3 separate regions of the Homo sapiens genome follow, and regions 1 and 3 are each linked to region 2. The links come from fine-mapping of genetic effects on gene expression. A gene starts in region 2. Each other region holds a variant in brackets. All regions are shown on one strand. Distances are from middle to middle.

Evidence for each region. PIP is the estimated chance that this variant, and not a neighbour inherited with it, causes the effect.
Region 1: its variant is fine-mapped to the expression of DHCR7-DT in whole blood (TOPMed, PIP above 0.99).
Region 3: its variant is fine-mapped to the expression of DHCR7-DT in testis (GTEx, PIP 0.96).

What each region holds. Positions count from the first base shown.
Region 1 is chr11:71,500,344-71,508,521 of GRCh38, reverse strand. It overlaps NADSYN1 (NAD synthetase 1), which reads right to left. Exons shown (of 21, transcript NM_018161.5): 21 at 6,706-7,220. The coding sequence ends at 7,170. It also overlaps the pseudogene S100A11P3. Among named protein-coding and RNA genes, the nearest start is that of KRTAP5-7, 23 kb to the left of the region's middle. RefSeq lists enhancers at 2,561-3,151, 7,092-7,779. The variant G/A (reference allele first, on the strand shown) is at 4,207.
Region 2 is chr11:71,444,024-71,452,201 of GRCh38, reverse strand. It overlaps DHCR7-DT (DHCR7 divergent transcript), which reads right to left and starts at 3,674. Exons shown (of 2, transcript NR_186309.1): 1 at 3,317-3,674; 2 at 45-512. DHCR7 (7-dehydrocholesterol reductase) reads left to right here and starts at 3,809. Exons shown (of 9, transcript NM_001360.3): 1 at 3,809-3,912; 2 at 4,468-4,592; 3 at 7,244-7,347; 4 at 7,987-8,178. The coding sequence starts at 7,250. RefSeq lists enhancers at 81-160, 281-330, 3,276-3,777 and a silencer at 3,503-4,142.
Region 3 is chr11:70,673,393-70,681,570 of GRCh38, reverse strand. All of the region lies in intron 15 of SHANK2 (SH3 and multiple ankyrin repeat domains 2), which reads left to right. Among named protein-coding and RNA genes, the nearest start is that of SHANK2-AS1, 51 kb to the right of the region's middle. RefSeq lists enhancers at 1-423, 424-1,187, 7,902-8,178. The variant G/T (reference allele first, on the strand shown) is at 3,626.

The DNA of each region.
Region 1 (8,178 bases), 56 kb before region 2:
GGGTAATACTGGCCCCTTAAAATGAATTTGGAAGGGTTCTCTTCTCCACTATTTTCCAGAGATTATGTAGAATTGGTGTTCAGTCTTTAAAAATTTGGTAATTCTCTGCATCTGAAAATTTAAAATTCCAACTTTCTTTTGGCATTTTAAAACTACACATTCAATTCCCCTAATAATTATAGAGCTATCCAAATTATCTATTTTGTCCTGGCTGAATGTTGGTAGTTTGTGCTTTTTGAGGAGTTGGTCTGCTTCACATAAGCTGTTGAATTTCTATGTGTAGAGTTGCTTGCACCGTTTGCTCATTATCCGGTTCATGTCTGTGGGGTCTGTAGTGATATCCCCAAACTTGGTATCCATTCCTGAAGCTTATAGTTTGTATCCTTGTATCCTCTCTTTTTTTTCTTTGTTGGTCTAGCAAGAGGTTTGTTAATTTTACTGATTTTTTTTAAAGAACTAGATTTTTGTCTCATTTATTTTCTCTATTTTTTGTCTCTAATTTCACTGATTTCTGTTCTTATCTGGATTTTTTTCTTCTTCTGCTTATGTTGGGTTTGATATTTTGAATATATTTTTATAGCTTTGTATGTATTATGATTTATATTACATTTTAAGTATATTTTTATAGAGTTCCTAGTGATCTTTTATTGAATACCAGATAAAGAGTATAAAAAACTGAGAAAGGTTTTGAGTGATGTTACTTTCTTGCAGAGACCATTTGTTTTCCTTCTGCGAAACAGTTAGACAAGCAGCAGATCACATTGATCCAGTGAGGCAGTAAGATAAGAGGCCAGGCTTTATTCTTTGTGAAGGAGTCTCTATTTCTGGCCTGTACTTCTCCCAGTATATAGTCTTGAGGGGTTTCAATAGAAAGCCTTAAGTTTTTACCAAGCCCTTTCTTATTAATCCTAAAATTAAATATTTATTTTCCAGAGCTACAAAACCTCCATAATCTCTGTTTTGCTTTAAAGGCTCTTCATGGATGCTTTTTGCTTAGCTCCTTGTCCTCTTTCCCCAGGCAGTTTCATAATCTTCAAGGGAAGAGGAGCTGCTGCACACTGGACTCACTTCTCTGAGCTCTTCTTTTCCCTGGAAGCTTTGCCCTGCAAGCTCTGGCTGCCTTTGTCACCCTAAAGTCTGATTTTCGGAAGGAACTGCCAATGCCTCAGCTGCTTTCTGCTTGTGCTCTTGTTCTCTCTGTCGCTAACGAATGGGCAGAGGCCCCACGGGAGGAGAGTGGAGCGCTGGCACCTGATGCATTCATTTCCCTTCTCACCAGGATCCAGGCACCTCCTGTCCTGGACACCTGGGTTTCTCTCTAGTGCTTTCAACTGCTGTTTTGTGTTAATTTTTTCTGGCTTTCCTACTTGTTCTCAGTGATTCTGTAGCTCAAATATGAGCTGTTCCATCAGAACCAGAAGAGGAGTCGCAATACGTATTTGAAAAATACACGAATAAATTATCTGCAAATTAAAAATAATCAGCTCTCCAGGAGTAGCTTCTATGGTGGGTGATGGCGACTATCTGAGGCTGGTGTCACAGGGGTAAAAGAGTTTACCAAGAAACTTGTAGGTTTTAAAAAAAGGCAGATTTATTAAAGAAAGGAAGGAAGTACATTGCAAGAAGGCAATGGGCAGGCCAGGAGAAGAGGAGCTGACTGCAAGGAGACAAAGGCTTGCAGGGGATTTTACAGGATGGTTCCTGGGCCATGTGCTGAAGAGGGCTGCATACAATACCTACAATGCCAAGGTTGCAGTGAGCTAACTTGCATTTTTCTATCAGCTGAGGGTCTGGTGATACCTGGGCATGGGAAGATTGTGAGCTATATGCACAGGAGGGCTGTGTGTGCTGGACTGTGAAGAAATGCAGACTTGTAGCTTATCTGCTTTCTCTTTTTGCTTTCCCTTGGTCCTGCCACCCTGGCTCCTTTTCCCTGATTAGGACGCCACAGCTTCCATGTGTTTTGATTTGTTAGATCTGACATGGGCCAATGAATTGTTTTTTCTTTAACTATATACAATCCTATTTTTCCCCTCATATAAGCCAATCCTAATGGAATAGAATCATCCTTTTCAAAAGCTTTTTACCAGAGGTCTCCACACCACTCCCAAGTACAGCCTCCCATGCCTCACTCAGCTACAACCTGGCAAAAATCTCCAGCCCTGCAGAGACTGAGTGGTGCATTGAGTCCCTGATTGCTGTTTTCCAGAAGGATCCTGGAGAGGATGGTTACAACTGCTCTCTCCAAGACGGAGTTCCTAAGCTTCATGAACACAGAAGAGGCTGCCGTCACAAAGAAGCAGAAGGACCGCAGTGTCCTTGACTGCATGACGAAAAGACTGGATGTCAACAGTAACAGGCAGCTAGATTTCCAAGAATTTCTTAATTCAAAATTGGCAGCCTGGCTGTGCATTGCCATGACTCCCTCCTCAAGGCTATCCCACCCTACAAGCAGACCTGAGGGCCCCTTCGGCCTGGCCTCCAAAGCCACCCCCTTTCCTTCCAGCTTCCTGTCACCATCTCCTCCTCACAGCCCACACGTCCCCTGAGCCCAGCACACCTACCTCCTCTGGCAGGCCCCGCCTGCGGGTAGAAATAAAACAGTTTTCACTCGCATCGGTGTGAAGAGACCACCAAACAGGCTTTGTGTGAGCAACAAGGCTGTTTATTTCACCTGGGTGCAGGCGGGCTGAGTCTGAAAAGAGTCAGCGAAAGGAGATAGGGGTGGGGCCGTTTTATAAGATTTGGGTAGGTAAAGGAAAATTACAGTCAAAGGGGGGTTGTTCTCTGGCAGACAGGAGTGGAGGTCACAAGGTGCTCAGTAGGGGAGCTTTTGAGCCAGGATGAGCCAGGAGAAGGAATTTCACAAGATAGTGTCATCAGTTAAGGCAGGAACAGGCCATTTTCACTTCTTTTGTGGTGGAATGTCATCAGTTAAGGCAGGAACCGGCCATCTGGATGTGTACGTGCAGGTTACAGAGGACATGATGGCTTAGCTTGGGCTCAGAGGCCTGACAACGTCACATTTTTAAAACATGAAAAAAAAAAGCTTTTTATTAACTACTCTGCTTAATTCAACTCCTTACTTCATATGTAGAGTTGATATAGCTGAATGCCTGCTGGATAAGTCAATAAAGGAAACCCTGACACTGCCACTTTGCAATGATAAAATAACTCATCAAATTGAAGATTTAACTGCAAACATAAAAACTGAGTAAACACAGTCTCTTCACATACATTTGGACAAATCTACAGACATCGCTGAACTTCTGGTATTGCTCTAGCACCAGCCCCAGCTAATTATTGGAAAAGGGTTTCTTTATAAGTGAATGGTTGGCAACAAACCAAAGTGCTGTCATCTCATAAACCGGACACTGAAAAGATTTGCAAAACAAGTACAACAATGCCACTCTTCTCACTTAGATGTTTTGTTTTTAGAAAATTTATTTTTTTGTAAAAATATGCTATTTCATGTTAACATGCAATGGGCTTATTATTTTTAGTGACTTCCTAAAATAAATCTATTTTTAGATTTCTCAGTTTTAATTTCTCAGGTAGCAACTATCAACAGATAAAAGCCACATAAGCAAATGCTCTTAGGGGTTTTGAGACCAAAGTGTTTGAGAATCACTGTCCTAGAGTTTTAAAACATTGGAAAGGGGAGGGGAATGTGTACCCCTGTCATTAACAGTATCCAGCTGAGAGGGAGGCTCGGGCTGACTGACTCGGGGTTCTATTGGAACACAGCCAGGCCTGTCCATCATGTATTGTCTGAGGCTGCTTCCTGCTGTCATGGGAGAAACTTTTGGGCGGATGCTGCTGGGAGCCGGTCAGACTGGGCAGACTGGATGAGAACAGGAGGATGAGAATGAGCAAAGGCACCCACGAGGAGAACAGGAGGAAAACCCACGCGTTTGGGGGCGACTAGAAATGCGCAGTGAGCCTTGGGGTCCCCTGTGCTGCCCTCAGGCTGCGTTTGCCTTGAGTGAAATATTTTCTCCAAAAGGCAGAGGAGAGGACAAAGCCCCCTGTGCATCTCCATTCTCCACAGCATCCCCAGGATGGCAGGAGGAGGTCCCCGAGAACTGCACAAGCTGTGTTTGACCCAAGGGGACTTTTTCCTCTTGAGGAGGTTTGCTGGGTCATGTCAGTGATGAGGTTTAAGGACAGAGCCCAGGACCCTCAGCAGCCTGGATATGGCCAGAC[G/A]GAGCTGGAAGCTTCTCACTGGCCGAGCTCTGGTCCCTTCCCCAAAACTGAAGGGTCATTACCCTATCCTAATCTCAGCTCGACTCATGCCAGGAGGACTCAGTAGTAGACTGTCCTACCACTGGGGGACACACTATTGTGTAACTGAGGGACACTAGGCTGTATCTGGGTGGACACTGCCCTGTTACTAGGGGACACTAGTGAGTAACTGGGGACACTGCCCTGTACTGGGGAACACTATCCTATTATCCTGTTACTGGGGGACTCCAGCTTATAACTTGGGGACACTATAATGGGGGACATTGCCCTGCAATTGGGGGACATTATCCTGTTACTGGGGGACACTATCTAGTAACTGGGGATACTACCTTATAATGGGGGGACAATACTGTATAACTGGGAGACACTATGAGGGGACATTGCCCTGTAATTGGGGGACACAGCCCAGTAACTGGGGAGACATTGCCCTATAACTGATGGACGTCACCCTATAACTGTGGGGACTTACCCTATAACTGGGGAGACATTCACCTATAACTGGGGGACATCACCCTATAACTGGGGGGACATTCACCTGTAACTGTGGGGACATCACCCTATAACTGTGGGGACATCACCCTATAACTGTGGGGACATCACCCTATAACTGGGGGACATTACCCTGTAACTGGGAGACATTACCTCATAACTGGGGACACTATAATGGGGGAACATTGCCTTATAACTGGGGACACTACCCTGTAACTTGGGGATACACTATGCTATGACTGGGGGGACACTGCCCTGTAACTGACGGGATGCTATCCTGTAACCAGAAGATACTAACCTATGACTGAGGGACAGTATCCTGTAACTGGGGACACTGCCCTGTAACTGGGGGACACCACCCTATAACTTGAAGGTTGGGGACCAGGGTCTGGTGCCCCTGAGCTCAGTTCCTGCAGGTGGGAAGTTTTGGAGCCTCCGAGGGTAATTCCACAGGATGGGGCTGCCTTCAGGGTCCCAGCCTCACCTGATCATCTTTCGGGTGACACACTCCCCACCCCGTTGCCACACATCTGGGGTGCAGGAGGCAGCCAGAAGCCTCCAGCTCCCATCCAAGGCCTAAGGAGAATCTCAGGTATCCTGCTGGGTGCTCCCTGAGAAGGTGTGGGGTGCCGGCCACCCCAGTGCACTCAGACCTATCCGGGCAGGGGGCATCCACGATGTGACGTGGGTAACAGACTCTGGAGGAAGTGACGGAGAAGACAACAACGGTGGTGACCACTCCGCCTGACAGCACCTGCCGAGTGCCCCCCACTCTCTACTATCCCGACAGCACCTGCCGGGTGCCCCCCACTTTCTGCTATCCCGACAGCACCTGCTGAGTGCCCCCTACTTTCTACTATCCCAACAGCACCTGCTGAGTGCCCCCCACTTTCTACTATCCCAACAGCACCTGCCGAGTGCCCGCCACTTTCTACTATCCAGACAGCACCTGCCGAGTGCCCCCCACTCTCTACTATCCCGACAGCACCTGCCGAGTGCCCCCCACTTTCTACTATCCCAACAGCACCTGCCGAGTGCCCCCCCCCCACTTTCTACTATCCAGACAGCACCTGCCGAGTGCCCCCCACTCTCTACTATCCCGACAGCACCTGCCGAGTGCCCCCCACTTTCTACTATCCAGACAGCACCTGCCGAGTGCCCCCCACTCTCTATCACAACAGCACCTGCTGAGTGCCCCCCACTTTCTACTATCCCAACAGCACCTGCCGAGTGCCCCCCACTTTCTGCTATCCAGACAGCACCTGCTGAGTGTCCCCCACTCTCTACTATCCCGACAGTACCTGCCGAGTGCCCCCCACTTTCTGCTATCCAGAGAGCACCTGCCGAGTGCCCCCACTCTCTACTATCTCGACAGCACCTGCCGAGTGCTCCCCACTTTCTACTATCCAGACAGCACCTGCCGAGTGCCCCCCACTTTCTACTATCCAGACAGCACCTGCCGAGTGTCCCCCACTTTCTGCTATCCCGACAGCACCTCCTGGGAAATTCACCCTCAGCTGTGGTCTGTGTCCCAGCCCGGGCCCTGGGTTTGGTGTGGGGCTCTAGGTGAGGCTGGGAAGCAGGAGTGTCCCAGGCAGAGGGGCCAGACATGGGGGAGAGAAAGAGCGGACACCCGGTGGGCAGCACAGATCCCAAACCCACTCCACTCCCCTGGAGGCTCTGGCCTGTGCACCCATCTTCGTCTCATCTTCACCCTGCAAGGATGGGAGGCTGAGACTCCCTGGGGCAACCCGGGAGAGAGGGTTCCAGGACCAAGGGGAGCTCTGGAGAGGACAGAAAAGCCGCTCCTCACCCCATTCCATAAAGAGACAAAGGTGCCCAGAATGGCATGAAGATCAGCAGGAAGGGGGACCCACAGTGCCACGCCCCTGCCCCACACCTGGCCCCATGCCTAGATGGGGTGGTTCTCCCACAGGACAGGAGTAAGGCCGACTGGTCCCCAGACTCCCAGGAAGAAAGCTCTGCAGGGACCATCTCCCCAGAACCTTCTGGAACCCAGGACAGGAAGGTGTGTGTGGGTGGGAGAGAAGGTCTTCTCTCCTTCATTTTCTGCTCATGACACCCCTCCCTTCCCGGGAGCTACTGTTCTTGTTCCTGCAGCAAAGATGCCACACGGGGCGGCGGTTGGAACCCTCCTACCCAGGCGGCTTCCTTCGGAGAATGCCAGACTTCGCGGGGAAGCGCACGCTGGCGGGAGGTCAAAATCATGTGCATTGGATTCCAGCCTCTTTTTAAGCCCAGGCTTTATTCCAGCCTCTTTTTGAGGAATTTGACTGAAAAGTTCCCTCCCTCTCGGCTGATGCGCCGTCCCATCCTGGGCTCCTAGTGTAGGGCTCCTACCCTTGGCTCCAGCAATGCTGATGATGAGGTGCTGGGGTCCCCGAGGACAGGAGGCCTCCAGGAAGGAACCGGCCTCAGTCCACGCCGTCCAGGGACTGTGGCTCTGCCCTCTCGAGCTGTAGCACCTGGAAAGAGAGGCCTGTGACACCACAGCCCCGCAAAGACGGACTGTGGGGCTGTTGAAACACTGGCACGCACCAAAAGCGGGTCACAAGTCCCAGAGGTGAAAAAGTAAATTACCAGAGTCCCCACCAGATGCTGGGCGTGTGTGCTGGAAAAGCCTGGAGGGGCGGGTCCAGATCACGCATAGCTGTCACTGCAGATGACAGCAGCGTCTCCACCTTTACCTGCAGCTGTCTCTGATGCTCCCACATGCGTCACTCTTTTGGCTGCATAGTGTCTGAACCCCCTTCCTGATCTGGGGGAGCCCGCCCCTGAGTACATCTTGGTGGGAGCCAAGCCCCCACCTCCCACTACAGAGGCCAGAGCTGGGGCAGCTCCCTCTCCTGCCCTGGGTGGCCAGATGACAGGGCCCATCACCCGAGGCTTGGCCACTCCACTGCCTGGTGACCCAGGGACACTGGGACTCAGGGATGGCAGAGCAGATTGGCATCCAGCCCAGGCTGGGTGTGGCGTGTGGGCTCCGTCCAGCCACAGCAGGGGATATAGGGCAGCAGCCACCTGGCCTGAGTCCCAGCTTTCCAGACCCTGTGACCCCTGCCCTCCCTTCCACCCTCTAAGTCACTCTTTGAGCAAGTTCCTTTCCACGGAAATCAGCCAGATACAGTATCTCTTCCTTACAACCATGCAGCCCCAAACGTCTTCTAGTCCCAAATGTTCAGCATTCCTCAACCTTGGCACCACCAACACGTGGAACAAAGAATTCTCTGCTGGGTGTGGGGTTGGGAGGGGCCCATCCTGCACACAGTAGGACATTCAGCAGCATCCCTGGGCTCCACCCACGGGATGCTGGGAGCACAGACCCCAGCCCAGTCATGATAACCAAAATCATCTCCAGTCATCGCCTAATGTCTCCTCGGGGGGTCAACGGTCCCAGATGTAGAACCCCTGCCACTGATCCAC
Region 2 (8,178 bases):
TCCTTCTGTCATTCATGTTAGTTTAAAAACACACAATTCACAAATTTGGAAAAAGAGAAGGCTTTATTTCTTGTAAACGGTCGTAGCCTGCAAGGTGGCGGCCATCTGTCTGAGGCTGGGAATCTGTCTCCAGCCAAGGCCAGAGACAGGCACGTCCAAGGAGGAGGGGTTGGGGCAGGAGCGCTATGCTGAAGGGATTGGCTAAACATACATATTCAACAGGTAACAGGAGGAGCTATGAATATTCATGAAGGTGGTCCTGACACATGCCCTCTTATTGAGCAAAGCATGTAATATATGACCCATGTTCACTTTGGGGTGGAGACTTAACATTTACACATCTTACAATTAGGGCCTTTATGGCAAAACGTCTTTTCAGGACACAAAGGCATGCAGGTGCATCATCTCTCTCTATTAACGGGTCAGCTGGTCGGCATGGTCAGCTGGTCGGTGGTCTCTTATTAGGAGAAAGTCACTGAAATCAGTCTCTTGTCCAATCACAGCTGCTATGGCTGGTGAAACAGAGTCAGTTAGTTGGCACCTAGTGGAGCTGCAATTGTTTTAATATTCCCTATCCCAAGGCTAGTGTGTGTTTGGCTAATAGAGAAACAGAAAGCCTTGTGGCTCTTAGAATATAGTTTATTCTCTAAGTGTGGGTTGCCTGACTTACCCTCGCCTAGCATGGCTTTGGGTCCTGTTTATAATTTGGTATCTTATTGCCACAGAGTCCGTTCTGTCAGTCTTACGATCTCTGTTTTAACATGAATGCCGGCCAGTTGTGGTGTCCAAACTCTGAAACAGGGGGCTATTACCAGGCGCATCTGACCTCCCATCCCATCATGTCTGGGAATTCAGTGTTGAGGTTTTTCTGGTGTCCCCTTGGTCAGGAGAAGGTCCCTTTGGTCAATGGGGGGCTTAGGATTTTATTTTTACCTTATGTACATATACCCGTTTTCACATTTTGAATCACTTTTTTTCCTGTCTATAAAGTAGTGCTTGTTCATGACAATTTGGAAACTCCACAAAAGCACCAGAATGTTATACATGCTAACTTATTTAATCCTCACAGTAGTTTTCATGCTTCTGAAATCCACACGATCTGCTCAAATTATCTCCTGCCAACAATGGCTGATGCCAGGCCTGGGCAGAGAAGGGGAGGATCCTTGAACATCTGGTTGTCCCAGAAAATAAGTAAGTACTCAAAGGATGGTAGATACATGTCATATGAAAAAAGAAGCCAATTTGAAGGGGCTCCCGTTAGCTAAATACAGGACAATACAGTAAGGATCATAACTCGGTCAGCTAAATCCATTAGGGCATACTGATAAAAAATAAATCAAAGAGGAAATCCCTACAGAAGAATGCTTGCTAATAAATAATTTATTAATAAATGTTGAGGGAATGATAAAATTAGAAAATTAACACTTTGTCCCAAGAAATAAGGGATTCAGGCAAGATTCCTCATTAAATGCTAGTTCACTGGGTGAAAGGTCATTTGGGAACAGCATATTTACAGTCTCAAAGTATCACTGCACCAATTACTCATTAATAACAAAAGGAAAAATGGAGACTTCTGGCAGAAACCACGGAGCCCCACTATCAATCATGGAGCACAGTGATATGTTGTCTTAAAAAAGAAAATTTTAGGACTCTTGAAATTTATTAGGTCAACTTGGGCAACAGAGCAAGATCCTGTCTTTAAATAAATAAATAAAAATAAATAAATTTATTATGTCAAGAGGGAAGTTAAGTCCTAGAAACTGGGTCACATAGCATGTTTGTAATTTTGTCTTTTAGATTATAGGCTGTTTTTCTTTATCATTCATGTTTTATAAATGACTAGGAGAGACCACAGACCAGGCCTGCTCCCCTTTTAATTACTGATCTTTATTATAGATTGTCTCTTATTATCCCGTACTTAGACCAGACTCCTACATCTTCAGTGTAAAATGTTAAATATACCTTCCACCTAAAAAAGACCACCTCAGCTGGTCAGATTATAACTTTATGCATAAAAAGATGTTAAAATTCTGTTAAACTTCCCTAAAATTTGTCTACATAAATGATCCCAAACATCTACAGTTCAAAATACTGATTTCCATTCTTTAAAATCTGTGCTTCCCAGGCAGCCTGTCCTCAAACTTTATACACTTAAATAAACTCTCTTTAAGCTAAATTCTGACCTGTTTGGTTATTTCAGGTTGACAGCCTTCTAACAAGATAAAACATGCTCTATGTAGTATATTATCCTGCCAAAAAAAGTGCATAGCCTGAATGCACAGTGTGGCTCCCTGATTAGATCCTGGGGTTTAAAAAAGGGCTGTAGGGCAGAGCTTCACACCTGTAGTCCCAGCACTGTAGGAGGCCACAGTGGGTGGATCGCTTGAGCCCAGGAGTTCGAGACCAGCTTGGGGAACATAGTGAGACCCCCCCCCCCACCCATCTCTACCAAAAAAAAAATAGCGTGTGGTGGTGTGCTCTTGTAGTCCCAGCTACTCAGGAGGGTGAGGGAAGAGAATCGCTTGAGCCCAGCAGTTCAAGGCTGCAGTGAGCTGTGATCGTGCCACTACACTCCAGCCTGTGTGACAGAGACCCCCGTCTTAACAAAGCAAAACAAAACAACAATAACAAAAGGGCTGTAAAGGGCATTATTGGGACAACCGCGGGAAACTGGAGATGGAAAATAGATAACAGCATTGAACTGATGTGGTCATTGTATTTTGGTAATATAGGAGGTTCTTGTTCTTAAGGAGTTGGATACCGAAGTATTTGGGAGGGGGGTATCACGGTATCTGCAGCTAATGGTGGGGGCTGAGTGGGGAGGAAAAAAGAAAAATACACATATATAAACACAGAGGGAGAGAAATGAAACGTGGCCAGCTGCTCACCCCTGCTGAACCTAGGAATCTGCGTGCTCACTTTACGTTCAACTTGTTTGTATGCTGAACATTTTTCAAAACAAAAAGGTGCAGGGAAAAAAGAAAACATGATGTCTCTCTGAGGGCCACAGAGACGTGGCAACCAGATCGCTCTGACAGTAAGGCCTGTTACCCGAGCTGTTGGGTGTGGGGTCAGCAGACACCTTCAGCTGCCCCCTCCTCCAGGGCTGCCTCGCCCCAGGTCATGCCCTCGCAACGTGGCCCGTGCGTCCGGCTCGCACTGTGGCTCAGCTTCTCCCTTTGCCCAGTCCTGCTGCTCCCTCCCCTCCCGTCCTCGCACAGGTGTGCCCCCCTAATAAGCAGGCCACCCAGACTCCATCTCGGGTCACTTTGGCGGTCTCCCAGCGGCGAGCCTTCCCTGACACCCATGTGTTTACCTGATCGTTTATGGAGGATCCTCTTCGCCCCGGGACGTGAGCCCTAGGACCAAGAACTGTGTCTGTTTTGCTCCTTGCGGTGCACCGGCGCCTGGACATACGCTCCATCAATGTGCGTCGCGAGCCGCTGAAGCCCCATTTGCCGAGGGGGAAACTGAGGCACGATGATCCAGGTGATGAGCCTGGCGCGTTCTCCGCGCGGCCCACGTGGCCACTCCGCCACGCCCCACCCCCAGCTGGTCAGCTGGGATCCCGAAGAAGCGCCAGAGGCTGCGCCCACCCACTAGGGCCCGGGCGGGCCGGTGGGGCGGCAGGGCGGGGCCTGGGCCGTCAATCTCGAGTCCGGCCGCTGCCGAATGGCGGGCGCGGTGGGCCCGGAGTCAGCTCAGGCTCCTCGACCAATCACGGGGCGCGGAGCCGCCGGGCGTGCAGGGTCCGCCTCCGATTGGCAGGCAATCGCTGACATCATCCGGGGGCGGGCGCCCCTGCCCTGCGGGTGACTCCGACCCCTGGCTAGAGGGTAGGCGGCGTGGAGCAGCGCGCGCAAGCGAGGCCAGGGGAAGGTGGGCGCAGGTGAGGGGCCGAGGTGTGCGCAGGTGAGTGGCCAAGGTGTGCGCAGGTGAGGCCAGGGGAAGGTGTGCGCAGTGGGGGGCGCTTGCCCAGGTGAGCAGGTGCCCACTCACAGGGCGAGGGTGGGGTCAGGGGTAGGGGGCGTGCGCGCAGGTGGGGAGAGGGTCCAGCTCACAGGCGAGGGGCCGCTGGGGCTCCGGGGAGGCGGGGCGGAGGCGTGGATAGTCCCCCTCCCCCACGAGCCGGCGTCTGAGGGATGCTCTGTCCCCGCGCTGTCTGGAGCTTCCCCGGGCGAAGGCTGCCTGGCTCCGGGGTCGGCTCCTGGCCCCATGCCGCGCTCCGCGGCGGCTCTTTCTCCTGCCCCACCTGTTGTTCGCCTCCCTCTTTGTCAGTGCTGAGCCAGGCACAGCAGCTTTGCGATGGGACTGGCTTGTCCGCCGTCCTCCCTGACATGCGGCTGTTGAAGCCCTGAGCACTGGACCTTCTGCCTCTTGCTTGACTCCTACTGTGGGCCTTGAGCTTCTGCCCTCTCCTGAAATGTCAGCTGCCTGCGGTCTTATTCATTTTTGTGTTCCTTGCAGGACTTTAGCCGGTTGAGAAGGATCAAGCAGGCATTTGGAGCACAGGTGTCTAGAAACTTTTAAGGGGCCGGTTCAAGAAGGAAAAGTTCCCTTCTGCTGTGAAACTATTTGGCAAGAGGCTGGAGGTAAGTGTATCTCAGTGCCCTGGATCGTGGGCGCAGGCTATGGCTTCACAGCGTTGAAAGTACAGACAGACTGGTCCACCAGCTCTCGAGTGCCAACGACTGTCTGTGCCTCTTATGAGTAAAATACAACATACCAGGGCACCTCCCCTTTGTCTGTTCCCAGCCGTCTATTGGGAAGGATGTTACTTAGATGTTTATTGCACAACTCAATGCTTGTGGCTAAAGAGCTGACTCCTGGGTGAATGAACTCTGTAATAAGCTAAAAGTACTTCTTTGGTCTTGTTTTAATCCCTTTTGACAACATTCTCCCAGTGGCTTTTTCACACTTTAGTTCTGAGGTTACACATCCCCTGACCCTTTTGCAATTTCCCAGTGTTTTACATAATTGATAATGTTGGTACCAGGCATTGTCCCCTTGTAGCTTATCCATGGCTTGGGGCAAGACGAATGCCACCCCATTCTACTTAGCCTTCCTGTAAGGCAAGTGTGCATGTGGGTGGTCTGGATTAACACCAGTCAGTGTGGGAACTAGGGATCGGAGGGAGTGGGGGCACTGAGCTGGTAAGTTTTGGCTGGGAAGAAACTAAGCTTGTATCTTACCTTGATGAGAGCCTGGGGGAGAGGAACTGTCTAAAGCAAGCCAGCTTGTCCAGGTGGCTGTGATCTTGAGATCAGACTCACTAGCGTGTCAGCTTTTCTCAGAAGTAGTTTTCTTTCATCCACTTTGATTTTACAGATATAAGGAGAGTGACTGGCACTCGCCAGGCTCTGTATTCAGTATTTGGGGCCGGAGAGAGACACGGTCTCTTCCTATCAAGAACTCTTCGTCTTGTTTTGTGCATCATAGGAACTGCATAAACTAACTTGTGTAAATTGAATGAAGTGCGGGTACTGAAGTTCTCACACTGCATAAGGAAAATGTCTTTCATCGTTGAAATTTTTTAAATGTGTGTGAATTTTTATTAAAGTAATTCATGCACACATTTTTTTAAAAATCAGTGTTAAAAGGCTTCAGAAGAAATACTCTCTACCACATCCCACATCCGACAGTCTTGCTTGCCAGCAGCAAACACTTTTCATTCTTTCAGCTACTTTTGTGTTGTTGTTTGTACCTACTTGTTTCTAAGTAATTTCCTTTTAGTACCCCTAACTTTGCAAATTCCCTTCTGTGCATACAATAGTCAATAAATAGTCAGAGTATACATTGTTATGACAAAATTACCATTATTCACTGTTGAGCCAAGTAAGGTCCTATAATAATGGCTTGGTTTCTTTTTTTCCTTCCTTATATGACTTTTTATTTTTCCTGGAGTTAACAGTTGCCTTCCTTTTTTTTTTTTTTTTTTTTTCATTTGGTAAGGTTTCTATGCATCTCTCATTCATTTTTTTCTGGATGCTCTAACCGAGCTGTCACATATATCAATAATTTTCCTACACATTCAGATGCAACAAAATTCATCATTTTCATTTCCTCTCTTTCCTAGCCATTCATCTTGTACCAATGTGGACTGGTTTCTGGTTAGTCCTGCTGCATAGCTGTCCTCTTGGGACTTGCCCCTGCCCTTTTGTGGACATGGCTTCAGCAGCTCTCTTGGGTCTCCAGTTTCCTGGATCCTATGTTGTTGTCCTTGAGTAATAGTTCACATAGGAGTAGAATTCTAGGTTGCAAAAAGTTTTCCTCAAAATTTTGAAGTTTTTCATCATTGTCTTCTAGAATCCAGCTTGCTGTTGAGAAATCTAAGCCTACTGTGATTTTTACTCCTGTTTTTTCTCTAAAAGCTTTCAAGAGCATCTTTTAAAAAATCTCAGATATTTTAAAGCTTCACAGTTATGAACTTGTTCTGGAAGTGGGGATGTCACTGCTTCCCCCAAATTATAACCATGTAGAGCAGCTGTGGGTACCTAGAGACATTCTGTGTTCTCTTCCCCTTTTTTTTGAAGGGTGATTATTGATGGTCCTACATGGGCCACTGTTCTAGGCCCTGGTAGTAGAACAATGAAGAGGACACACAATTCCTGCCCTTGGGAAGCTTACATTCTAGTGAGGGGAGACAGACAATACACACACACAAATGAATACTTCTAGGCGATGGGGAGAGTTACTAAGAAAATAAAGTACCCAGTGGAGGGCCTTGGCAGGGAAGCTGGGGAGCAGCTGCTTCAGATTGGCTGAGAGGGAAGATCTCCCCAGGAGGGGACATTTTACATGAGCCCTGAACAAGGACACCTGCAAACGTGCTCTAAGCAGAGGAAGTCAGTGCCACAGACAATTTAAACTGTGTTCAAGGATGAGTGAAGACCCCTGTGTTCCTGGAGCCAAAGGAGAATAGGGGAGAGTGGTGTGTAGGAGGGAGGCAGGAGCCAGCTTGTGCTGTAAGAGGGGGGGCATTCTGCCATGTTTGGAGAATGAACTGAGACTAGCAAGAGCAGCCATAGCAAGGTCACGTGGGAGGTGATTGCAGGGTCCAAGGAAGAGAGTCTAAGACAAGATGATCTCTTCCCTGCCTGGAATCTGCTGTCAGGAACAAGGTACCGGGAAGATGTGCACAGGAGGCCAGCCCTGCCAGGCCCAGGAGCAGTGGTGGATGCAACAGGGAAAGGTGGTGTCTGTTATTTGAGGGATAATGTAAGCAAGGTTCTCTTTCTTGCAGGGCCCAATGGCTGCAAAATCGCAACCCAACATTCCCAAAGCCAAGAGTCTAGATGGCGTCACCAATGACAGAACCGCATCTCAAGGGCAGTGGGGCCGTGCCTGGTAAGGATCTTGCCTGTTCTCCCAGCTAGAAAGTAAAGTGTGGTCTCAGAGCTTTCCAGCCTTTGGAATTGTATGGACCCAAAGGAATGAAGGACCTTTTTAAAAAAGATTTTTTTTTTTTTGTCAAGACTAATGAAAGGTAAACAGTTTTCCACTTTATAAAGTAAGGAATTATAAAAAGAAACTAGAAATCATGGTCAGTCAACAACTTAGAAAAAAAGATAAAGGCTTAAAGGGCAGCTGGGGCCTTCCCACCATCTGGGGGTATGACCTATTGTCACAGCTCCCATTTCGCCATAGAACCATGGGGACTTCGTGCAGGGTGAGTATCCTCTCCGACCTGGAACTGGGGAAACCACTGGCCTTGGTGGTTGTGAAAGACCTACCTCCGCTCATATTCTGAGCTCTGGGCCTTCCATGGGGGCCACAGATAGTGCCACCAGTTAATCAACTACAGTAGAGCAGGCATGTTGAGTGGCTTCCCTGGCCGCAAGGAGGGCCCGTGCTAGGAGCTAATGCCTTCTGTCATGGGGTACTGGTGGGTTTGAGCAACAGTTCTCCCACACAGAGCCTCTTAGGGTCCTGGTGGGGCCCAGGGCAGATGGGCCCCAGTGTGACTGCCTGCATCCGTCCTCGCAGGGAGGTGGACTGGTTTTCACTGGCGAGCGTCATCTTCCTACTGCTGTTCGCCCCCTTCATCGTCTACTACTTCATCATGGCTTGTGACCAGTACAGCTGCGCCCTGACTGGCCCTGTGGTGGACATCGTCACCGGACATGCTCGGCTCTCGGACATCTGGGCCAAGACTCCACCTATAACGAGGAAAGCCGC
Region 3 (8,178 bases), 770 kb after region 2:
GTTACAGTCCAGGGTGGCTGAGGCAGTGCCGCTGGTGGGTCCCATTTCTGGGCATGGTGGGGTGGATGTGGTGGATGTGCACCTTTCGGCCTTTGAGGAGATACCCCAGGGGGCCCAGGTTTCCTCTTTATCTAATTAGTTTCTGGGCCGGGAATCTGATAGACCCTTTAACCTTGCCAGAGAAGGTTACCGCTGAGGCTGGCGGAAATTTGGCAGCATCAAATGATGGGCTTGGACTTCTGAATTCTCCTCCAGTGCGAATCCTGAGCCGCGGAGAAACATCTCTGTGCAGGAGCTGTTTATTCAGGGGGTTTCCGCCGTCAGACTTTGCCAAGAGAAAAGGGACCCCACGCTGAGCAGCAGAGAGAGAACGGGGGACTTGGCAGAGCCGGTGCCGCTGTGTGCTTCAAGAGGCAGGACCCTCCCAGCAGGTGCCGGCAGCCCCAAGGCACAGATGCAGAGGCATCCCCGAGCAGCCAGTGTCCTCTGAGTCCTCCTGCAAGTCAGGGCACCTGTCAGCTGGGCCACCAGCACCCCAGAGCCAGTTGCCTTTTAAGTGGGTACTGGCCTGTGGTCTGAGCATTGACGGGGATGGTTCACACCCAGGGAGAGTGTGATTTACTAGGAAGAGTGTGGGAGTATCTCGGCCGCAGGACCTGCCTGCTTGCTTGCTGGTGCCCAATCTGAGGTGTGCCTGCATCCTGTTGAGAGTCCCCACAAGGAGGACGGTGCCTGCAGTTGGATGAGTCAGCCCACAATCTGCGAAAGATTGTTGAAAACACCCCCACTCCATATTAAAGCCTCATCCACCTTGAGCCTCACCAGGGAAAGAGAGAGAGGCTGGGGTGGCATGGCCAAGTGAACTGTGGAGCCCAGAGACATCCATGTCCTAACCCCTGGGGCCTGTGAGTGTGTGACTTCACCCGGCCAAGGGGAATGAAGCTTCAGAGGGGGACTTGTCAGCTAATCAGCTGGTGGTGGATTAGGAGATGGTCCTGGCGAATGCAGGTGGGCCCTGTGCCATCACAGGGATCCTCATCAGAGGGCAGGGGGTCAGAGGCAGAGAGTGGGGAGCTGGGACGATGGGAGCGGAGGCTGGAGTGATCTGAGGAATGATCATGGGTCAGGGAACGTGGTGGCCACTAGAAACCAGAGAACACAAGCAGCCCCTCCTCTGGAGCCTGGGTGGGGAGCCCGCCCTCCAACACCTCAGTCTTAGCCCAGTGAGACCTCGGACCCCCAGAACTGTAAGAGGCTAAATGTGTCTAGCTGCCAAGTTTGTGTTACGTTGTTACAGCCGTCACAGGACACTCACAGAGTGCTTGCAAGCATTCAATGCATAGACTGAAGAGGTTGAGAACCCGCTCTGACAGAGGCTGTTTTGGCCGACATTAGCTGTGAGTGTGTAACTCCCTGGGATGGGGTGCGATGGCCCCACGTTACAGATGGAGAAACCGAGGCTGCAGGAGTTCTGCTCCCTTCCCCAGGGCCAAGACATGCAGTAGAAAAGGACAGGAAATGCCGCCTCTCTCAGACTGTGCAGACTGCATGCTGCCTGCTCCACCGACCCCTGTCCCACCCGTCGGCCTCCGTGGGACCCCAAGTCATTTCCAGTCACAGTGATCACAGGGGTCTGGGAAGGGACTGTGCAGCCCCAAAGGCCACAGTCACCCTGGGCTCTGTGGATTTGGGAATGGATCACACAACTGTTGGCAGGTGGACGTCCAGGGTCCCGAGGGAGGGGCACCGGTTCTAGTTGTCACTCCATGGGCCAGAGGGCCTGGCTGGGGTGTGGCAGCGGGCAGCGGTGGCCTCTGTTGCTCAGGCCACAGACATCCTCATGATACCCCAAAATGCGCCAGACACCGTTCCAGGCCCTGGGGCGTATAGTCAGCACGACAGATGGCACCGGGCCTCCCAAGCCTCCCGTTCAGTGGAGGTGCCCTCTGTTCCTCGGCAGGACCCAGGCCCAGCCCTGACCCACTTCTCCCCAGCACAGGGGAATGGGACACAGCCCTTTGTACTGGTCATGGGGAGACAGCTGATGGCTGGAAGCCTCCGCTGCTGCCAGGCACAGAGGGACTGCCCCAGGCAGGTGCACACCCCAAAAGAGGGGGCCGAGGGTGCAGGGAGATCTCCCACCTCCCTGATGGTCCGGGGATAGGCCTGCCCTGCTCCTCAAAAGGGGGCTGGCTGGCTGCTGGTGGTGGGAACAGGCTCTGCAGTTGGCCTCGGGGGTTGGATGCCCAGCTCCGCCATTTGCCAGCTGTGTGACCTTGAGCTCCTCACTGGACCTTTCTGAGCCGCAGCTTCCTTGTTTGTAAAATGGGAAAGAAAATGGTGCCTCCCTCCACAGTGTGTTGTGTGAGAGAGAGAATGAGGGCAGGGGCTCCCCATGGGGCTTGGCATGGTGTGCGTACCCGGCCTGCCAGAGCCCAGCGTTGCGGTCAGCCGTGTTTTACTACCTGCATTTGCACGGATGACCCCGTGCCGTCACCTGTTACGGGCCTGGTGTCTTCTTCTTCCCAGTCATGTGAGGGCGGGGGAGGAAGGTTGTCCTAGCGAGCATGCTGAGATCCCCTGGCTAAGGAGAGTGAGTGTGTTGGAGCTTGGAGGTAACCTGGGGATATCTGGAGGATGTATGTCAAGGCAAATGAATACCTGTGCAGCCTGGACTTGGGGTCAGGGGCATGGACCAAACAGTTCGCAGTTAGAAAAATACCAGTTCTGGGCTGGGCGCAGTGGGTCATGCCTGTAATCCTAGCACTTCAGGAGGCCGAGGCGGGCGGATCACAAGGTCAGGAATTTGAGACCAACCTGGCCAACATGGTGAAACCCTGTCTCTACTAAAAATACAAAAATTAGCTGGGTGTGGTGGTGCACACCTATAGTCCCAGCTACTTGGGAGGCTGAGGCTGGAGAATCACTTGAACCCGGGAGGTGGAGGTTGCAGTGAGCTGAGATCACACCACTGCACTGCTCTCCAGCCTGGGTGATAGAGCAAGACTCCATCTCAAAAAAAAAAAAAAAAAAAAAAAGCCTGTTCTTAGCAGACTGGAAATGAGCAGGTCGAGAGGCAGGGAGAGGCAGGGAGAGGCAGGACAGATAACTCCAGCTTTAATAAAGAACAGGCAGGAGGCTGGGCGTGGTGGCTCATGCCTGGAATCCCAGCACCTTGGGAGGCTGAGGCATCAGGATTCCTTGAGCCCTGGAGTTTGAGACCAGCCTGGGCAACAAAGCGAGACCCCATCTCTACAAAAATTAGCTGGGCCTGGTGGCGCATGCCTGTATTCCCACCCAGGAGGCCGAGGCAGAAGAATTGCTTGAGCCCAGGAGGTGAAGGTTGCAGTGAGCCAAGATCGTGCCACTGCACTCCAGCCTGGGTGACAGAGTGAGACTCTGTTTCAAAAACAAACAAACAACAACACAACAAAAGAACAAGAAGGAAAATGAGAAGGAAATCAGGAAGTCCTGGAGAATGGGGAAGATTTAAAGTGAGAAACTGGCTGGGGCTGAAGACCTGGGAAAATTGGTGCAAGGGGTTGTCTTTTGTCTTTGGAGGGGGCCCCCTAACAAAATAAATGAACTGGACACCATGGGAAATGGCAGTGAGGATGCCAGTGGA[G/T]ATGGTGGAAGGGAACAGAGGGCTGGAACCTTCTGCAAAAAGAAGGAGCGAGCCTACAACTGGGACAAGCAGCTCGTTCTTAAGATGTGTCTTCCTCAGCGAGAAGTTTGCACACATCTGGGAAATGGGTACGCAAGGACCCTGGCTTTGGTGGTCGAGTGCAGAGCAGTGTGAGAGGGAGTGGGCATCTCGGGCTCAGGGGGAGCCTGGCTTCCGGAGCCCTCAACAGGGCTTCTGGTGGGACGTGCTGTGTTGGACCTGGTGCTCTGAGGGTTCCCTGCCTGCCCGCTTCTTGGAGGTCATCTCAGCAGTGGACGTGGTCATATTAATGGTGGACTTCCTTGGGTGGGTGCAATGAGCAGGGTTGTCCAGGGGCAACCAGCCTTACCTTTACCTCATTGGGAGACGCTTCAGCCCCCATGCTGTGGCCAAGGGTCCGGTCACAAAGACAGGGCATCAGTGGTGTCATGGAAGGTCAGAGGGAAGGCAGGGTTTCATTCGAGCGAGGCTAATTTTCAGAATCGTGGGTGGTGGCCCGGGTTCTAGGAACACTTAAAGGATAGAGGAGACTCGGCACCACGTGCTGAATCCAGGAGGAGGATGTTGGCCGCTCAGCTGGATGCATTGAATGACAAAGACTTTGCAACTGTGTGGCTTGTCTGGGGTGTCTGGAAGCCCAGTCTGTGGACAGGCTGGTCCTCAGGTCTAGCAGAGGGACCCATTAGCAGAGGCAGCGTCTGGCCTCAGACATCCACTCATCAGGTCCAGACCAGACCGTGGGCCTTGGCTGTATCTTCTGATCCACTCCGTTGCTAAGTTCCCCTCTGTACCTAAACTCTGTCTCCCTTTACTTCACTTGGCTTTTTAGAGATTTCTCAGCCTTGGTGTGTGTTGTCCCCAGCCCTGTGATGTACAAGTAATTGCCTGTATACGTGGGATTAGCCAGCTTGCTCAGGAAGTCAGTGTTGTGGTTAGTGGGAAATTCAGACCGGTTGAGTCCAAGGAAACCACTTTTCCTTAGTTCTGTTTTCTGAACCAAAGTTCATTTGAGATGAGGGGTTGTGACTAGATCTTCTCTGGACAGTTGAATATAGAGCAGGGCCCCCATCTGTGTCACTGGGGCTCATGAATCCTCCTTGCCAATGACTAGAGTCCTTGAAGGAATAAGGGCTGGGTCAGTGTTTCCCAACCCAGAATATAACTCGGAGACCTCTTAAGTTGTCAGGAAGCCATCCCAGTGTTTTGCCCGTATCTTCTAATTAATAACTACCCTGCCCCCTCACTCCAAGCTCCAAATATTCACATTATGTTCATTAGAAAGCATTTGGCTGCAAGTAATAAAAAACCTCACTCACAGTGGCTGAGACCACAATGGCGAGTCCAGAGGAGGGCACAGCTAGCATCCATTGCACGGGCAGTGACATCTCTGAAGGCCTCTTGGCCTCTCCCTCATGGTGGCAAGATGGCAGCCATAGCTCCAAGTATGATGTCCCCATAGCACGTCCTACTCAGGAACGTAAAGGAGGGGGTGCCAGGGAGCAGTTCCCCAACCCCCACTCCCTTTCCAAATAGTCCAGCCTTTCCCAGAGGTCCCAGCAGACCTCGGGTCCGCTTGGCCTTGGGTCTCCTTGGCCAAAACTATTCCATAGGGTCATGACCATCCATAACTGCAGGAAAGGCTGCAATAGCAAGTGTCTGGCTTTTCCAGTCGCTGCAGCAGGCAGCAAGCTGGGAAGAGTGCCAGAGTCTGTGACAGGAGCTGGGTGTGGTGGAGAAAGAAGACTTAGTCCCCTCCCTCTAAGCACACAGTGTCACGTGAGGGACAGCATTAAGGTCCTCTTGGAAGTGGTGGCTATTGCAGTGCGCTTTGAAGAATGAATAGGAGTTCAACTGATAGAGATAGCAGGTATAGAGTGTTGTAGGTGGGAGTAAAAGTGTGAACCACAGACCAGCACACACCTGCTGTGCCCAGGAGATGCCTTGTCTTCTGACACATTGCCAGTTCATTGAGATGGGAATCATAAAACACAGCCATAACCAGCATGGGGTGTGAACTGTAAACGTTTATCCAGATGTTCCTGCACCCATTTTTAGGTGTGGGGCCTTGCTTTGCCTTTGGCCTTGCTCACCCCACCGTGTCCTTCCTCCCTGGCATTACCCAGCCCAGCATTTGGTCCACCATTTCCAATTTCAAATTTTTTGATACAGAGCAGGATCTCCTGGCAAAATCTTCTCAGAGCATCCCAGGGTGCCCTCCCAGCAGCTCAGATACTGGCAGGACAGTAAATCACCAATTCCTTCTCCAGTTCTTTCTCCAGAACATGCTGCTAGGACCAACGCCTCCCCTGAGGGTTCTTTCCTTTCTCTCTGTCATTGTCTGGGTTGGGAGGGCTGTGAGCTGTCGGGGAACTGGCCCCCACCTGGCCAGGAATCAACAGTGCTTCAGTATCACTATCGTTCAGTAACCCACAGTGGTTCAGACAGCCTGGCTTTGCCTCCAGCCCTGTGTTCTGGTGCAAATCACTCAACCTCTCTGCTTTATTTGCTCCCCTGTAAAGTGAGCGTCATCACAGCTCCTGCCTCATACGGTCATTATGAGGATTCAATTAGTTAAACCCACAGAACACTTAGAACAACGCCTGGTGTGTGGAAGGTGCTCAAAGGCCGTAGCATAATAATTACACTAATTACTCTAATTATGAATTATTACTCATTAAGCCAGAATTCAGGTCTATCCCCACTTGGAGCCAACCAGAGCATAAAAACCTAGACAAAGTAAAGAGGTGTTTCTTTGTTTTCCAGAAAGTACTCCCCATGTGATCCTTCTGAACCTCTCAGGCATCTCACAGATGATCTCATTTCTAAAACGCGTTCTCCTTGCCTCTTTTCCAGAGCTCAGGTGTTACATCAAGCCAGGCACACCTGTACACAGTAATGTCAGCATGGCTTCTGCAGCAAGATTGAGACTTTTCTTAGTTTTTATTATACATAGTTATATGCCATGTACATGTATTATTTGTGTGGACTTAAATGTCGTTAGAATATTTAGAGCCTATCTTTAGAAACTGCAGCCCACAGGCCAAATCTGGCCCATTGCCTGTTTTTGTAAATAAAGTTTTATTGGAACACAGCCCCACCCATCATTTACATATTGTCATGGCTGCCTCTGTGCCACAACTAGCAGAGTGAGTAGTTGCAACAGGGACCACCCATCCACCCTCAAAGCCTGGAATGTTCACTCTCTGGGCCGTTGCCTGGTCTAGAACATTTGCAGAACCCCTTCCAAAGGACATCATTGGCTGGACATTGTGGCTCACGCCTCTAATCCCAACACTTTGGGAGGCCGAGGCAGGCCAATTACCTGAGGTCAGGAGTTCGAGACCAGCCTGGCCAACATGGCAAAACCCCGTCTGTACTAAAAATACAAAAAGTAGACAGGCCTGGTGGCGGGCTCCCATAATTACAGCTACTTGGGAGGCTGAGGTCAGAGAATCACTTGAACCTGGGAGTTGGAGGTTGCAGTGAGCCAAGATCATGCCAAGCTGGCAAGTAAAAAGAGCAAAACTCCGTCTCAAAAAAAAAAAAGGGGACATCATTAAAATACTTCCCATTACAATGTGTCAGCCTCTATCTTAGTTCAGCTGCATTGCAGTAATGGATGCCTGAGCCTGGGTAATTGATAAAGAAAAGAGGTTTCTTTGGCTCACAGTTCTGCAGGCTGCCCAGGAAGCATGGTGCCAGCATCTGCTTCTGGTGAGAGCTTCAGGAAGCTTCCACTCATGGCGGAAGGCTAAGGGGAGCTGGCATCACATGGCAAGAGAGGAGGAAAGAGAGAGAAGAGGAAAGTGCCAGACTCTGTTTAACAATCAGATCTTGTGGGAACTAGGAGTAAGAACTCTCTCAGCCCCGGGAGAATGGAACCAAGCCATTCATGAGGAATCCACTCCCATAACCCAAACAGCTCCCACCAGGCCCCACCAACAACATTGGGATCAAATTTCACCATGGGATTTGGAGGGGACAGATAGCCAAATTATATGAGCCTCCTACTTTTAACTGTTTTTACAACTGCCCCTCTGGTGACACCAGTCTCTTAATGAAGCATCAGCACTTGGAAGAGAAGCAAACTTTTCAGTGGCCCTAGTGAGTGGAGGGAGGTTGGTGGCCAGGGGTGGACGGCAGCAGTGGCCTTCTCCTCCGGCATGGGCCTGGCCTGGGTTTCTCATGGCCTCCCACTCAACAGCTCTGTGCCATCCAGGTTGGGCAGGTGATCCTGGTGGGGGGACCACGGGCTGCAGGTGGGCCCCCAGCCCTAGAATCAGCCTTCCCTACAAAGCCCAGGACATCAGGTGACTGTCACACTGAGTCTGGTTCCCGGGAGAGGAGGACATTTCTGGTTTTGTAGCTGTGGGGCCATCTACTCCCCACCCCCACCAGAGGGACTTGGGAACTTGCCTCACAAGGAGACCCCTGTGGCCTGTCCCATGGCCCGCCAGCATGGTCTTTGTGGGCGAGCTTTGAGACAGACAGATGGGGCAGGCTTGGCCTGTCAT